4 linked regions of the Homo sapiens genome follow. The protein of the gene in region 1 purifies or fractionates together with the protein of each later gene. This does not show direct contact. Each region holds a gene or a part of one and is shown in the gene's direction. Other genes may lie near its edges.

The links.
Region 2: the proteins of TAFA4 (region 1) and AVL9 purify together in Homo sapiens (affinity purification with mass spectrometry; 2 studies listed by BioGRID and IntAct, with this or other methods). This does not show direct contact.
Region 3: the proteins of TAFA4 (region 1) and HS6ST1 purify together in Homo sapiens (affinity purification with mass spectrometry; 2 studies listed by BioGRID and IntAct, with this or other methods). This does not show direct contact.
Region 4: the proteins of TAFA4 (region 1) and ITPRID2 purify together in Homo sapiens (affinity purification with mass spectrometry; 2 studies listed by BioGRID and IntAct, with this or other methods). This does not show direct contact.

The regions. Positions count from the first base shown.
Region 1 is NC_000003.12:68,884,048-68,887,547, reverse strand, and holds part of TAFA4 (chemokine-like protein TAFA-4 precursor), read left to right. Parts: intron 1-2,237; 5' UTR 2,238-2,359; coding exon 2,360-2,373; intron 2,374-3,500. UniProt on the Homo sapiens protein: Modulates injury-induced and chemical pain hypersensitivity. Ligand of FPR1, can chemoattract macrophages, promote phagocytosis and increase ROS release.
Region 2 is NC_000007.14:32,554,489-32,557,988, forward strand, and holds part of AVL9 (late secretory pathway protein AVL9 homolog), read left to right. Parts: intron 1-69; coding exon 70-108; intron 109-3,500. UniProt on the Homo sapiens protein: Functions in cell migration.
Region 3 is NC_000002.12:128,316,069-128,320,011, reverse strand, and holds the start of HS6ST1 (heparan-sulfate 6-O-sulfotransferase 1), read left to right. Parts: upstream 1-1,143; 5' UTR 1,144-1,448; coding exon 1,449-1,975; intron 1,976-3,943. UniProt on the Homo sapiens protein: 6-O-sulfation enzyme which catalyzes the transfer of sulfate from 3'-phosphoadenosine 5'-phosphosulfate (PAPS) to position 6 of the N-sulfoglucosamine residue (GlcNS) of heparan sulfate.
Region 4 is NC_000002.12:181,890,508-181,894,529, forward strand, and holds the start of ITPRID2 (protein ITPRID2), read left to right. Parts: upstream 1-1,222; 5' UTR 1,223-1,559; coding exon 1,560-1,770; intron 1,771-2,107; coding exon 2,108-2,153; coding exon of another isoform or gene 2,154-2,157; exon of another isoform or gene 2,158-4,022.

The DNA.
Region 1 (3,500 bases):
TCTGGGGTCCTGGCAGAAAGTTGTTACAAGGGAGGAGCCACCACAGAGAGCATGTACTAGGGGGCAGTCATGGGAGCGAGGCTACCCCAGAGACTCCCGAAATGTAGAGCTGCAGGTGTACAACTCCAGCCTGGGAGAGCTGCAGGCATAGGACTCCAACCCAAGAGAGCTGCTGAGTGGATCGGGTCCAGCAAAGCCACAGGGGCAGGGCTGCCCGTGGCATTGGCAACCTAATTCCTGCTGTAGCATGTCCAGGATGCAGGACATACAGAGCCAAAGGACATTATTCTCCAGCTTTAAGACTTGATGTTGTTTTACCTGTTGGGTTTTGGACATACTGAGAACCAGTTACTTCTTTTCTTTTTCTATTTCTCCCTTTTGGAATGGGAATGTCTGTTTTATGCCTGTTCCATCACTGTGTTTTGGAAGTAGATAACTTGTTTTGATTTTATAGGCTCACAGCTGGAGGACATTTGAGGTGGGATGAATCTTGAGTCTCATATCTGATTTAGATGGAACTCTGGACACTGGGCTTTTGAATTGATGCTTTTGGGCTATTGAGATGGAATGAATATATTTTGTATGTAAGAAGAACATGAGTTTTGGGAGGCCAGAGGTGGAATGTTATGGCTTGAATGTCTCCTCCAAAACTCATGTTGAAATTTAATTGCCTTTGTGCTATTGGACTTCCTAGCCCCTAGAACTGTGAGAAATAAATTTCTTGGTAAATTACTCAATTTCTGTTCTGTTACAGCAGCAGAAAACAGACTAAGACATGACAAGAAAGAGTTAATTCTTTCAAGTAAGTGCCTCAGGTACACTCTGGGAAAATATGACTGAATGAGTTACTGCTCAGCCTAAAATTAAACTCCTGGCTTCTTGTCTTGCATATGAACTATTAGGTCGCATTACTTTCCACTGATGGATCTATTTTTTTAATGAATTGAAAAAAGAATACCCAGTGGTTCCTTTTGTGTGAAGAAAATAAGAAAAATATTAGCCAGGAAAGGTCATTTTGGTTTCCAATATGTGGGGAGTTCATTATGATGAGTTCTGATGAATTATATTGTGTAGTTCTTTCTGATAGCAGAAGGTCACATCATGCCGTTGGGTGGACGTAAGGACAAACACACTTAATAAAGTTGGAGGATCTGGGAGATGAACATTTTCAAGTTGTTTTTTCTGAGCAACTTGTGTTTATACAGCTATTTAAAGCCATTTCTCTCTTGTTGAACTAATTACTCAAGGCCCATACTCTCTTACATGCAGCCCCAAAGTGGTGAGTCTTCAAATTTATCACCGAAAGTGTTCTCTAATCAAACTTGTGGAATTATCTTTGGGTTATCTAAGAGAAAAATCTCAGTTGTGCTTGGTGGTGGATTCTTAATTGGTTCTACAGGATTCTAAAGTAATTAGACTTCATTTCAAAAATCATTTTTATGTTATATTTGCAACTTGAATATTTATTAACACATATCATAATTTTTCTCTGATCTTTACCACTGGGAGGGATGTATTTAACTTAGCATCTTTACAAATGGTATAGTTTCATGTTCTGTTTTTTTCTTAAGATGTGTTTGCTTTAGGGTCATCTGAGTCCTTTTACAAATGTGTTCACTAAGTAGAAAAATCCTTTTAGGTTTATGCGTTGAGGGAATGTCAACTACAGTATTCACAAGTGTTCTTTATATTTTGGTATGGTGGATTATATTGGAAACACTTTTTCTCTTGGTGTCCTATTAATATTTTTTCAAAAAGCAACCTCATAGATTGTCTAGCATCATCTTCAGGCTTATGTCACACAAATCCAGGAATTCAGATCTTCGTGCTGGCTTTTCCACTGCTCCATGGGCTTGGGCAAATTGCATGTCTTGGGAATGCATTATCTCTAACTTCCATTTTTCCTGATGGTCAATGAAATGGGAGAGTGAAATTTGTGCATTTCAAATGATTTGGGACCCTCTGTTAAATTTTGAATACCCTTCCTGCTGCAGAAAGTTCTTTACAACTATGTGGTGTTAACTAATATGTGGCTAATTAATGACTGTAGAATTCTATATCTTTTCCTCCCTAATAGTAGGACACCTTACAACTATGGATATGTTTGGCTGTCTGCCACTTGCCTGAAACTGCAGGTGTCATGGTTAAAAACCATTATTTTGCTACTGGAAATTAGTTTCATTTTAACATTAAAATGCTAATTGATTCCTTTTTTTTTTTTGGCCTTTTTAACATAGGTCTTCTGAGCTACGATAATTTTTTGGAACGGCAGAAATGATTGGTTCTAGCAACAGATGGGAATTTGGAGTCACTCTGAAATATATCCTGGAATAAGTGTGTTTGACTAGAACCACATCTTATGAGGTCCCCAAGGTAAGATTATTTTAACGTTCACCTGGACATGATATCTTTACAAAGTATTGAGAATTTAGCAAAAGTGAGTATCCTGGAGTTGATGATCCGTTTTAGAAGCCTGCTTTTACACTTTTTGGGAATTTGGGGAAATGTTGATTTTTTCATTTTAGCTTTCATCTGTGAAATGAAAATTATTTCAGTTTGCAAAATAGTACTTTGGTTTATTCAGTAGAGGAAAAAATGAAGAAATACAAATCTATTGCTGAAGAGCTTTCTGGCCCCAACCCTACCACTCTGCCCTGGCATTTCTCTGGGGGAATGGTTGTTGAGCTATTGTTAAGTGAATACTTGTTTTAGAGACAGGGAACTTATTGCTACTAACCCAGCAACTTGTTACATAGAATTGTCCACGTAAGAAGAAGATAGATTAGGGATCATTGCCCAGGATTTGGAATGTGTGCCCTTGAGACTTTTGATTTAAGGCATTTGTTGTTGGAATCCAACCAGGAAAACAGAAACCATTCTGCTGGCTTTTTCACTGCTCTGTGAGCTTGGGTAAATTGCATGTCTTGGGAATGAATTATCTCCAACTTCCATTTTTGTCCAGTGGGAAGTGAATTCAGGAGACTGGTTATACATATGATGGGAGAGTCAGAGAAACTGAGCGGAAGATACACAGGAAGCCACTGCCATCCCCTGGCTGGGAACCATGGAAGCAGTTAGACCGTGGGGAGGCAGTGCCTAGAAGAAGGAAACTAGAGTGGAAACTAGAACCACAGTGGACCCTTCTGGCAGGAACTGGAGCCATGGTGGAGAGATGGCCACCCCACAGATCCTGCCAAAGACAGAGAAGGCGGGGAGAAATGTCCTGGCCTATCCCTTTTCCTATTCTCCAGGCTCCAGCTGTTGCGTTTCCTTGACTGAACCCAGCCAGTAACCAGCTGACCTGGGAGCCTGGGAAATGCAGCCTAGAGGGCCCTCCAGCCCTCAATATAGGGGAAGCGGGAGGAATGGATCTGAAGGCAAGACAGGCCCAGGCTGTCATATAATTCATATATTTAAAATAAACTTTTGTTTCTTTTTAATAAACTTGTTTATTTTCATTTTATAATATCACTTTCATTACTGAAGAACATCCCATCTTG
Region 2 (3,500 bases), on another chromosome or scaffold:
GGAGGGGAAAAGATGAATTATAGGCGTGAGTCTCTCATTTCAATACAACATTTTTTTTTCCTTTTGCAGGTCTTAATCCTATTTAAGCTAATTCTTCTTGAAAAAAAGGTACGATCCTAAGGGATGAAAGGAAAGATGGAGTATTTAACTTTTATTCACTTTTTTTTACATTATTTCATAAAATTGAAACTAATGATAAAGTATTAAGATACTTTTTGCCTATCATTGTGGTAAGCTGAAGCACATTTTCTTGTTCTCTGCCGTAAAAATATAAATTCATGCAGCTTTTCTGTAGGTAACATACAACTCAATTTTAAGCTGACTTAAATAGAAAGGACATATTGGCTCACTTTGGATTTCAGGATTTGACTCAGTGGCTCCATAGTGTAATTAAGTGCCTAGGTTTTTTCCATCTCTTTGCTCTACAGTGCACAGTGCTAGCTTGTTCCAGGGCCTAGTTTCCCTGGTAGTATAGGGAACTGCCGACAGTAATTGGGTTATTTGCTTCCTCAGTCATAACTGCTGGCAGAAATAATACCTCCTCCTAAACAATCTAATAAGAATTCTTGGCCGGGCACGGTGGCTCACACTTGTAATCCTAGCACTTTGGGAGGCTGAAGCAGGAGGATCACTTGCGCTCAGGAGTTTGAGACCAGCCTGGGCAACATGGTGAAAGAAACCCCATCTCTACAAAAAATACAAAAATTAGCTGGGTGTGGTGGCATGTGCCTGTAGTCCCAGCTACTTGGGAGGCTGAGGTAAGAGGATGGCTTGAGCTTGGGAGGTAGAGATTACAGTGAGCTGAGATCGTGCCACTACACTCCAGCCTGCAAACAGAGCCACTGTCTCAAAAAATAACAATTAAAAAAGCAATAATTATTTCCTTCAATTTGTTTGGGCCTATTACAGGCCACACACATGGCTACTCCTGTGGCCAAATACATGTTTGCCCTGATTGGCTTAAACTTGGGTTCCTGACCACTCCCTAATACAAAGGGATGGGTTTGCCATGATTGGCTTAGTCCCAAGGCCAAATCTGACCTACTACCTATTGTTATACATAAAATTTTATTGGAAATCAGACCCATTTATTTACTTGCTGTTTATGGCTGCTTTCACACTGTAGTGGCAGAGTTGAGTAGTTGTGACAGACCATATGGCCCGCAAAGCAAAAATATTTATCTGACCTTTTAGAGAAAAAGTTCACCAGCCTTTGGTTTAGACTAATCAGGAGCCATCCTTGGATCTGGGCCAGTTTTATACACCGTATTACTGTGCCTAGTGGAGTCGGGGTTGAAAGAATGTTGGGGAGTCGACCATGCACAATATCCACTTTAGTTCATTACCTTAAAAATATTCCTTTGACCCAGTAATTCTCCTGTTAGAGATCTATTTTCCAAAATTAATCTGAATTGGACACAAAGCTCTAAGAGAGTCTATCACAGAATAATAAATTATAAGTGAGTAACTATTAGTTTATCTTGTATGTTGTATAGAATTTCAGACAATAAAAAAGATACTAAGATGTTTTTATTGTTTTAAAGATTTTCATGGCATGTTAAGTGAGAAAAGTTTGTCTACAACAAGTCAAGCCTATGATCCCATTTTATAAATGAATATATATTAATTGAAAAGGGACTGGAAGTAAAGATATCAACCTAGTTTGGTGAGAACATAGGTTATTTTTTTTAAAGGGAATATTTTTCTGTATCCTATTTTTCTATAAGAAATATATATTCCTTCAGGCTGGGCACAGTGGCTCACGCCTGTAATCTCAGCACTTTGGGAGGCTAAGGTGGGTGATCACTTGAGGTCAGGAGTTTGAGAACAGCCTGGCCAACATGGTGAAACCCCATCTCTACTAAAAATACAAAAATTAGCCAGGCATGGTGGCAGGTGCCTGTAGTCCCAGCTACTCAGGAGGCTGAGGCAGGAGAACTGCTTGAACCAGGGAGGCAGAGGTTGCAGTGAGCCAAGATCACACCACTGCACTCTAGCCTGGGTGACAGAGCGAGACTCCATCTCAAAGTAAATGAATGAATGAATGAATGAATGAGTATTCCTTCAAACAGAAAAAAAGATAAAGTTTTTTTTTTAAAAATGAACCCAGCATATTAGTGTGGTATTTCAAAAAATTTTATTTAATTTCTAAAATTGTGATAAAATACACATAACATACAATTTATCATCGTAACCATTTTAAGGTGTACAATTCAGTGCTATTAAGTACATTCATGTTATGCAGCCATCATCACTATCCAGCCACAGAACACTTTGAATTCCTTTTTATTTTTTGAGACAGGGTATAGCTCTGTTGCCCAGGCTAGAGTGCAGCGGTGTGATCATGGCTCACTGCAACCTCTAACTCCCAGGCTCAAGCAATTCTTCCACCTCAGCTTCCTGAGTAGCTGGGACCACAGTGCTGGGATTACCAGCATGAGCCACCACACCCAGTCTGTATTCCTTTATATATGTCCATTTTTTCCCCTGAATCATAATACCTTGAAAGTAATTTGTAGACATTATGGTACTTCACTCCTAAATAAATACTTCAGGATATATTTCTTAAGAAAAAGAAAATATTCCTACATAATCGGAATACCATTTTCACATTCAGGAAATTTAACATTGAGATAATAAGAGAAATCTGACATAAGTCCATTTTCAAATTTCCCCAGATATGATAATGTCCTTTGTAGCTGATGTTTTCTTTTTTTATTATTATTTAATTTTTTATTTTAAAGAATAGAGATAGGGTCTCGCTGTGTTGCGCAGGCTGGTCTTGAACTCCTGGCCTCAAGTGATCCTCCTGCCTCAATCTCCCAAAATGCTGGGATTACAGGTGTGAACCACCACACCTGACCTGATTGTTGTTTTCAGTCTGGGATCCAGTCAAGGATCATGTACTGCATTGCTAGCTCTCTTTTATTTCAAAAAGGTATTCCACCTTTGTCTCTTTTTTTGTTTGTTCTTTTCTTTCTATATTTTGTGACACTGGCATTTTAAAAATAATCAAGACTAGTGTTCTAGGGTGAGATTTGTTTGTTTTGTTGTGGCTAGTTTCAGATTAAACCTTTTTAGCAAAAATCCTACACAGGTAGTGGTGTGTCTCTGTCAGGACATGATATCAGGAGGCCCATAACTATTTGTAGTTAGTAGTATTGGTGATGTGAAGTTCGATCATTTGGTTGAGGTGGTGGTTGCCACCTCAATAGCTAATCCGTAGAATGATAAATTTCAGACATTGTGACTATCCTGTTGTTTCACAGTAGTTTTAGCATCTGTTGGTAATTTGTACCTAAATCACGGTGGATGCTAAATGGTGATTTGTCTGTTAGTACTTCTATGTTTATTAGCTGTTACTCTTTTTTTTTTTTTTTTTTTTGAGACAGAGTCTTGCTCTGTCGCCCAGGCTGGAGTGCAGTGGCGTAATCTCAGCTCACTGTAACCTCCACCTCCCGGGTTCAAGCAATTCTCCTGCCTCAGCCTCCTGAGTAGCT
Region 3 (3,943 bases), on another chromosome or scaffold:
ACCCCGTCCCCGGCAGGGCTTGACGTGGACACTGGGAGCCCACGCCTGGCAGCCAGACTCGCTCCCAGAGCCCTCGCTGGCCTGAACCAACACACTAGGGCCCACCGCGGCCGGCCCTGCAGCTGTGAGATCCTGGCAGGTCCCAGCCCCACTCCTGCGCTTCCGACGGGCTGCAGCCTCCGAGTACTGCCAGAGCCCAAGCAGTGTGAGTGGGCACCTGGCGGGACCCCCCGCCCCACGAATGCCGCGCGTGCTTGCCAGGCTGGGCGGCGGCGAGTGAGGAGCCCGCACCACCCGGCCCACACACGAGCCAACGTGGAGCGAGCCCTCCGCAGCCAGGTTGGGCCCGGGCCGCTGGACTCTCCAACCAACCCACGAAAGACAGAATATTTGGTGGGCACTCACGATTCTTAAGAATTGGCTCAATGTTTTATAACTCTTTCATTGGAGTATAATAAACATGGATGGGGGAAAATGCACCTCGTCTGATATTCTTTTCAAACAAGGAGGAAGCCATAAAGCCGCTCCGCAGGCCTCTGCAGACAGCCCAACATCTCTTCAATGCGGGGCTGCGGGGCACTGTCCCAAAGCCAGCCGCAGGGGTGAGGGGGTCGAGCAGGAAAGGAAAGCCTCGCTTTCCCTCTCGGTCCTGGTGGTGGGCGGCCCCCGCCGCCCTGGTCCCTGGAAGTGCAGCCCAGTAGGCTAGCGTCTAACTTCAGCGCCCCAGCGTGCAAGGTCAAGGCCTTTCCTCCCGCGCGGGCTGCGGGGACGTGGGCGGCTGGGACTTGGGGAGGAGGGGGTACGGACCCAGGCTCCAGAAGCGCCAGCCGCCGCGCCCCCTCACCGCGGCCCCCGCCAGGAGAGCCTCCCACGCCTCGGCTCCGCACTGCCGGTTGGTCCCCCACTCCCCTGAGGGCGGAATCACTTCCCAGTCGCTGGCTGCCCGCCTGCTAGCGGCCTCGCCACCGCAGCAGACCCAGGTCCCGCGCCCAGCACCCGCGGCGAACCCCGGCACTCCGGAGGCGGGGCCGAGGATCGGCGCGGGCGGCGACGGCAAGAGACGCCACGGGGGCGGGCCAGGGGCGGACCGGGGCGGGGCGGCGGCGGCGGACTGCGGAGACGCGGCGGCGCGCGGGGCGGCGCAGAGCGTTCTCGGCGCGGAGTGGAGCGGAGCGGGCTGGTGCTGGGGGCGCGGAGAGCGCTGTGCTGGCCGGGGCCGGGAGCGGGGCCGAGCGGGAGCGGAGTCGGGCGTCGGGCCCGGGGAGCCGGGGCCGGGCGGGGAGCAGCCATGGCACCGCGGAGGGTCGGGGCCCGCGCCGCTGCGGGCGGCCTGGGCGCCGAGTAGCCGGGCCGGGCCGGAGCGCGGGCGGCGGCGGAGGCAGCTGCGCCCGCGCCTCCTGCCCTCCCAGGCCCCGCGCCCCGCGCCCGGGCCCCGGCGATGGTGACACATGCGGCGGCGGCGCGCCGGCGGCAGGACCATGGTTGAGCGCGCCAGCAAGTTCGTGCTGGTGGTGGCGGGCTCGGTGTGCTTCATGCTCATCTTGTACCAGTACGCGGGCCCAGGACTGAGCCTGGGCGCGCCCGGCGGCCGCGCGCCGCCCGACGACCTGGACCTGTTCCCCACACCCGACCCCCACTACGAGAAGAAGTACTACTTCCCGGTCCGCGAGCTGGAGCGCTCGCTGCGCTTCGACATGAAGGGCGACGACGTGATCGTCTTCCTGCACATCCAGAAGACGGGCGGCACCACCTTCGGCCGCCACCTCGTGCAGAACGTACGCCTCGAGGTGCCGTGCGACTGCCGGCCCGGCCAGAAGAAGTGCACCTGCTACCGGCCCAACCGCCGCGAGACTTGGCTCTTCTCCCGCTTCTCCACCGGCTGGAGCTGCGGGCTGCACGCCGACTGGACCGAGCTCACCAACTGCGTGCCCGGCGTGCTGGACCGCCGCGACTCCGCCGCGCTGCGCACGCCCAGGTGAGCGCCCGGGCGGCGGGATCCTCGCGCAGCTGCGCCCCCGAGGCCGGGCCGTATGCCCGCCGTGCTGTACTGGGTCGGCCCTGCCTTCCCTACCCCCTTCTGCCCTCTTGGGGGCCCCCACTCGCCGGCACCCCTCCCGACCTGCCGAGCGCCCGAGGCTCCCAGCTCCTCTGGGTGAGCCGGCTGTCACCGCGCTTTCTGACCTCGCTCTCACTCTCTTCCTTGCCTTGTGCTGCCCTACTGCCGGCTTGACTGCGCAGCGCCCGGGTTTTCTCCAGGGTCCCCGCCCGCTGCCCTCGGGCCACCTTACCTGCTGTGCGCCGTGAGGTCTGGCCCGCCGGACTTGGGGACGCGGGCTTCTGGGTGTGTGCGTGGCCTACCTGGAGTGTTGGCTTCCCCGTGCCGCTTCGGTGCTGTGGTCCCAAAAGTGGAAGTGAGAGTAGTGAGGTGCCGCCCCTGTGCCTGGAGTGCCTGCCTTCAGAGGGTGGGGGAGCTGCCAGGGAAGGGGGCTGGCTCTGCCCGCCTGCCTGCCGGTGTGTGCAGGTAGAACAAAGGCCCTGTTGACCTGGGGCTGGGGGCGGGGAGGAGGCAGTACCGCCTGTCCTCCCAGTGGGGCCTGCCAGCCGAATTCTTCCAGGCACAGGCTTGCCTGGAGAGAGGAACAAAAGCCACCCGATGGGGGACCACCTTCCCCAGGAAGCTACCAGCCAGGTTGGGGGTAGTTGAGCTGGTCCAGGGAACCTGTGCTGCCACACCCCTTCTCTGGGGTCCCCCAGCCCCATGTCAGAGCTGAGCTGCGTGAGGACACAGAGCATGGGAGGGGTGCCGGGGCAGCTCTTCTGGGAAGCCGTTTGTAGGGGAACCTGGGGTGCTGCTGGGTTTCCAGCAGTTAAAGTTGGGGTTATTTTCCTCCTGTTCCTGTTGGTGCCCATTCGTCCTGCAGGGATGCCCTGCGGGGCCTTTCTCCCCAAAGTCTGGGCTGGGAAGGGCCAGGAGCAGGGCTTCTTGTCTGCCTTTTGTTTCTCTTCCAAATTTGCCTTAGGACTGAATTTGCAGACAGGCTGGTGGTAGGAGGCTGGGCGGTTGTAGGCGTGTTGGCTGGCACTCTTGGGTCCAGAGGCTGTAGGCTCTCAGGTGTGCCTGGGGAGCCTGGAAGGTCCAGCCAGCCTGGAGCTGAGCAGAGTCCGAGACACTGCTCCCCTGCACAGACCTCAATCCTTGCTCTGTGGTCTTTCTCAGGCTGTCAGGAAATTGGGGTCCTAGAGTTGGAGGGGCATCTTCCCACTTTTCTTTCTCCCCCCTCCCCCAACTGTACACACACACACCCACACACACACACACACTGCAGCTCCCAGCCTGGGAGGTGATGTTCTGAGCCTCTTACAGCCACATTCTACACTTGGCGGTCACAGAGCTGCCTGTCTAGGGCCCCTGAAGGATTGCTTCCGGCCCAGCACTTAGTCTGCTCTGCACAGATGCACGTTCCTGCTGCAGGGCCCCCCTAACCCTGGTCCAGCTTCTCTGTGCTAGGCTCAGCTGTGCCTGGGACCACAGCCATGCCCCCACCCACCCTTCCACCAGTCAGAGCAGTAGGCTCCCAGAGTTGGTCACTGACCAATACCAACAGACGCCTCCCTACCTGTGGGGGGTGCAAGGATGGGGGTCACCCCCTTTGCCAGAGGGACTTAGCTCGGCAGCCTAAGAGGATTGCGTGGAAGCTTCGGGCCGCCAAGAAGCCGGAGCTTTTGAAACAAGCCTGCTCAGCAGAGGCCACCTCAGCCCTAGATTGCAACCAGGATGCTCTTCCTGCAGCCCCGCACGCCTGTGGGTCCCCAGGGTGAAGAGCCTTGGCCTCCTTTCTCTGGAGTTTGTCCATGAGAGTGGGAGGACCAGGTGGGGCCGATGGGGCCCCAGGTGCTACACCAGGAAGGCCCGGCTCCCCCTGCCCAGGGAGCATGTGTGGAG
Region 4 (4,022 bases), on another chromosome or scaffold:
AATATTATGATGGTTCTGGAAAGCTAGTCTGGATTTTGGATTTGATCTTGGGGATATTAGTAAACCATTAGAAGATGTCTTGGAATTGTAAATCTAGAGCAATGCGCTAGAAAGGAGATAGGAAAGAATGAAGGCAGGAAAATCAGTGTGCTATTTTAGTAGTCTATGACTTATGTGTAAATGCCTGGACAAAAACTAGGCACTATTTCATCTCCAGAGCATTCTTCATTCCAAATTCTCCAAAAGTTATGGTTTCCTGTAGCTATCAATGACAATGCACTTAATTACCTTGTAATTCGAATGCTTCCATTAGGAATTTTACTATGCTCTGGATTTTAATTTCAAATGAAAAATAATTCCTTCCTTAAAATATTTTGTCTACGCAAAATATTCTTTTCAATCACGTTAAGATTTTAAAAAGTGTTCTAACTTGTTCTTCAGAGCATAGCCAAGTACAATAAAATATTGGAAGCCTTACTTATATGTATAGTTCAGATGTAACATTTAGGGGAACAATGCTGCTTGATAGGTCTGTCACATTGTGTCTGGTTTTGGATAGAATTTGAGTATTTTTGCTAATGAGAATTTAAACATAACAAAACGGAATGCCAAAGCTGGCTTTAAAAAGTTTTGAACCCTGACATCATTTGTTTCTTGTATCATGCTGTCTCACCAAAATCCAAGCAACTATCTCCACATTGTCCCAATTGTTTCCTCTATTCTCCCTCACCAAAGTCCAACTTCAATGTGAAATTTCCAGATTAAATATCCTTTCACAATTCATTTTCATTCATAACATAAACACGATAAATAACTTTAAGTATGAAAGTAGCACTCCAGGAAGCTTAGTCTTTTGCAGTTTTTACATTTTGGCAACACCAATCAAGCACCTCTTTCCGTCCTTACCCCAATTCCTTGGACACTAAAGAGTCTATATTCAGGCGACTCTTTCAAGTGTATGTTTCAGGGTGCCCAAGCAGACACTTGTTTTCTCGCGGGGGATGTTTTGTGAGACTTGGCCTCCCCACTTACGTTCTATTTTTAGGTGAGGGAGGAGGAGGAGGAGAGGAGGAAAGATTATTAACAAACTAATCTTGCCCATTCCGCGGGCAGTAGTCGGGGGCTGGCCTGCTCCGCGTCGCGCCGGGCGCGCCCCGCCCTACCGCGCCCCGCGCGGCCCCGGCCGGAAGGGGGCGTGGGCCGCCGCCGAGGGAAGGCGCGCAGACGCGCAGCGGCCGGCCTGCTCCGGGCGCGTCAGGCAGGGGGTGGGGAGCAGGGGCCGGGCGGGCGCTCGGCTCCCAGCCGCGCTCCCTCGGGCCACTAGCGCTCCCGCGCGCGCCCGGCCGCCTTCATGTGAAGCGCCGGCCCTCCGCCCCTTCCCTCCCCTTCCTTCCCTCCCTCCCTCCCTGTCCCCTCCTCCTCCTCCTCCTCCTCCGGCGCCCGCTTCAGCTCCCCGGGGCCCCCTGCCCGGCCGGGCGCTGACAGCAAGGGCGGGGGTCCCTGCCGCCGCCTTGTCTCGCGCAGGGTCCGGCTGGGGTAGCGGAGCCCCCAGTGCGGCCATGGACCGGCCCCTGTCGTCGTCGGCGGAGGCGGAGGAGGAACTGGAGTGGCAAGTGGCGAGTCGCAGGAGGAAGGCCTGGGCCAAGTGCCGCAGCTCCTGGCAAGCGTCGGAGACGGAGGATCTGTCCACAGAAGCGACGACGCAGGACGAGGAGGAGGACGAGGAGGAGGACCTCCCCGGCGCGCAGCTGCCGGCAGCGGGGGGAAGAGGTCGGTGCTCCCGGCCGGGCTCCGGGGGGAGGCTGGTGGGCTGGGGAGAGTCTCGTGCGCCCTGGGCGCCTGCCACGAGTTCTGGGAGAGCCTCGGGCACGGTAGGCCGAGGGGAGAGGGGACACTTCCGACCTTCAAACGCGCGCGCTGAACGAGGCGCCCCCAGCGTCAACACAGACAACTGGGTGCCATCCGATTTCCCTGCCAAGGGACACTGAGACGTGTCGCTTAGGCTGCATTTGCCGTGGTAGATTTTCCTACTTGGGAGGGTCCAGGGTGACTCCGCCGTCGTAGTGCTCCTGGGTGGTAACGTGCTGTCCCCTCTCTCTACCCCCAGGAAACGTGCCCAACGAGAAGATCGCGATATGGCTCAAGGACTGCCGGTGAGTGCTCCCTGGTCCGCCCGCGTCCCGGGGGAGATCCGTGCGGACGGGACGCCGGAGCAGAGCCACTCGGGCCGCGTCCCTGTGGGTCCCGCGACCGTTGTAAGCTACAAACCGGAAAGTGAGCCGGCGGATAGCTTCCTCCTCTAAGCGATTAGAAATGGAAGTGCTGTGACCGCTGATTATTTGGTGACCGTGTTGACTTTACAGTTAGGACTTGAGCTACTCACGCATCGTGTTAGCATCAGAGATCAGAAATCCAGAACAGATAATCATGCCATATTTGTTCTGTTTTTATTTGAAAGAATTCTCACATCTCGAACAGGATATTTTGTTTTGCTTTAGTTTTGGCATCTGTACAACTGGCACGGAATCATTTTCCTTTCAAATGTGTTTTAGACGAGTTTAATTTACCTAACTACACTAAATGGGCTTTAATTTTGTTTCTGTTTGGGGAGCTATTAAAACTAGCTAACTTTGTACTTATAGTTTACTTCTTGAACATGGAATTGTCAGATGGCACTGGAATTCTCAGGGAATAGAACTTTTAAAAGCATTCAGACTGCATAAATCTGTTTAATTACATGCTTTGGCAACTGGTACAAAAATGTTTGATAAAATACAGAGGAGATGAATCATGTTGCACGTAAATCTGACTACAGCAAAATGTACTTGTTTCTTATTCCACTTTGCTAGTTGTAAAATCAGGAATGTAGCCTTTAAACTTTTGTTGGTGTTTGCTTTCGAGCATATTTTTGCTTTCTCAATTTAGATTTTCTTAATATTTTGTTCAAATATTAGAGTTAGGGTAGTTTGTTTTGTTTTGTTGTGGAAAGTGATTCATATGCCAGTTTGCCTCCTCTAAAGACAGACAAGATATTGGCTACCATGATATTAATGCCTTGTTTTGATGAATCGACTGGAACCTTATTGAACACTCTTTATTACAGAACTCGTACCCTTTATTGGAAGTGTCATAGACCCTTCTGAAATATGATGACATATATGGAATAACTTCTGTTTAAAGATGCACAGAGGCAAATACACTGCTTGAAGTCCTTGGACCCCAGATTTACAATCTAGCTGTAAATCAATCTCCCAGTTTTCAGATAAGCCTTAGATATTAGATACTTCACTCAAAGTATGGATCAAGAAATTGTATTAATGTGCTATTGGTTCATTTAATTGTTAAATACTAAAATAGTCTATAATGTAAAAGCTTGAAATTTTGAATGTACATGTTCAAGACCTTTTGGGTGAGATCTGATAAAACTAGTATCTTTCAGGTTTCCACTTAGAAATGTGTTTGAGAAGTTGTTTTGTAACTTTTACTTAAGTCCTTTAAAGCCTCCAATCTGACTCTTTATTTAAATACAGTCCTAAGTACAGTATTGGCTTACTTTAGGTTTCTTAAAATAGGCTTAGCATTACAAATACATTTATAATGTTTTATTGTTTAAATTCAAGTGCATATTCAAAAGAATTTTAAAAATTAAGAACAAGAGAAGAATCACACTATAGTTTAATGACATATAGGATTTAAGATTGTATAAGAGATCCTATCAATTAGACAGTAAATAAGTGCATCTTTTTTGAGACAAATGCAGTAGGCAAATGTTGACATTCACCAGGGCACAGTCAATCCCTGACAATTTCAGAAGTTTTGTTGCCAATACTGATTTATGTGGGCAGATTCTGTAGTCTGCTGCTCCTTCTCTCATGGATTACCTTCTTGTTCCTACAGTTGCACCTATTCTACACAAGAGTGGCATTCATTTGTATCCAGGAAAGCTAGAACAAGTAGTCTTTTAATCTTGGCTATATTATCACAGATTCGACTTAGGATATGTTGCATCTGTATTTTTGTTT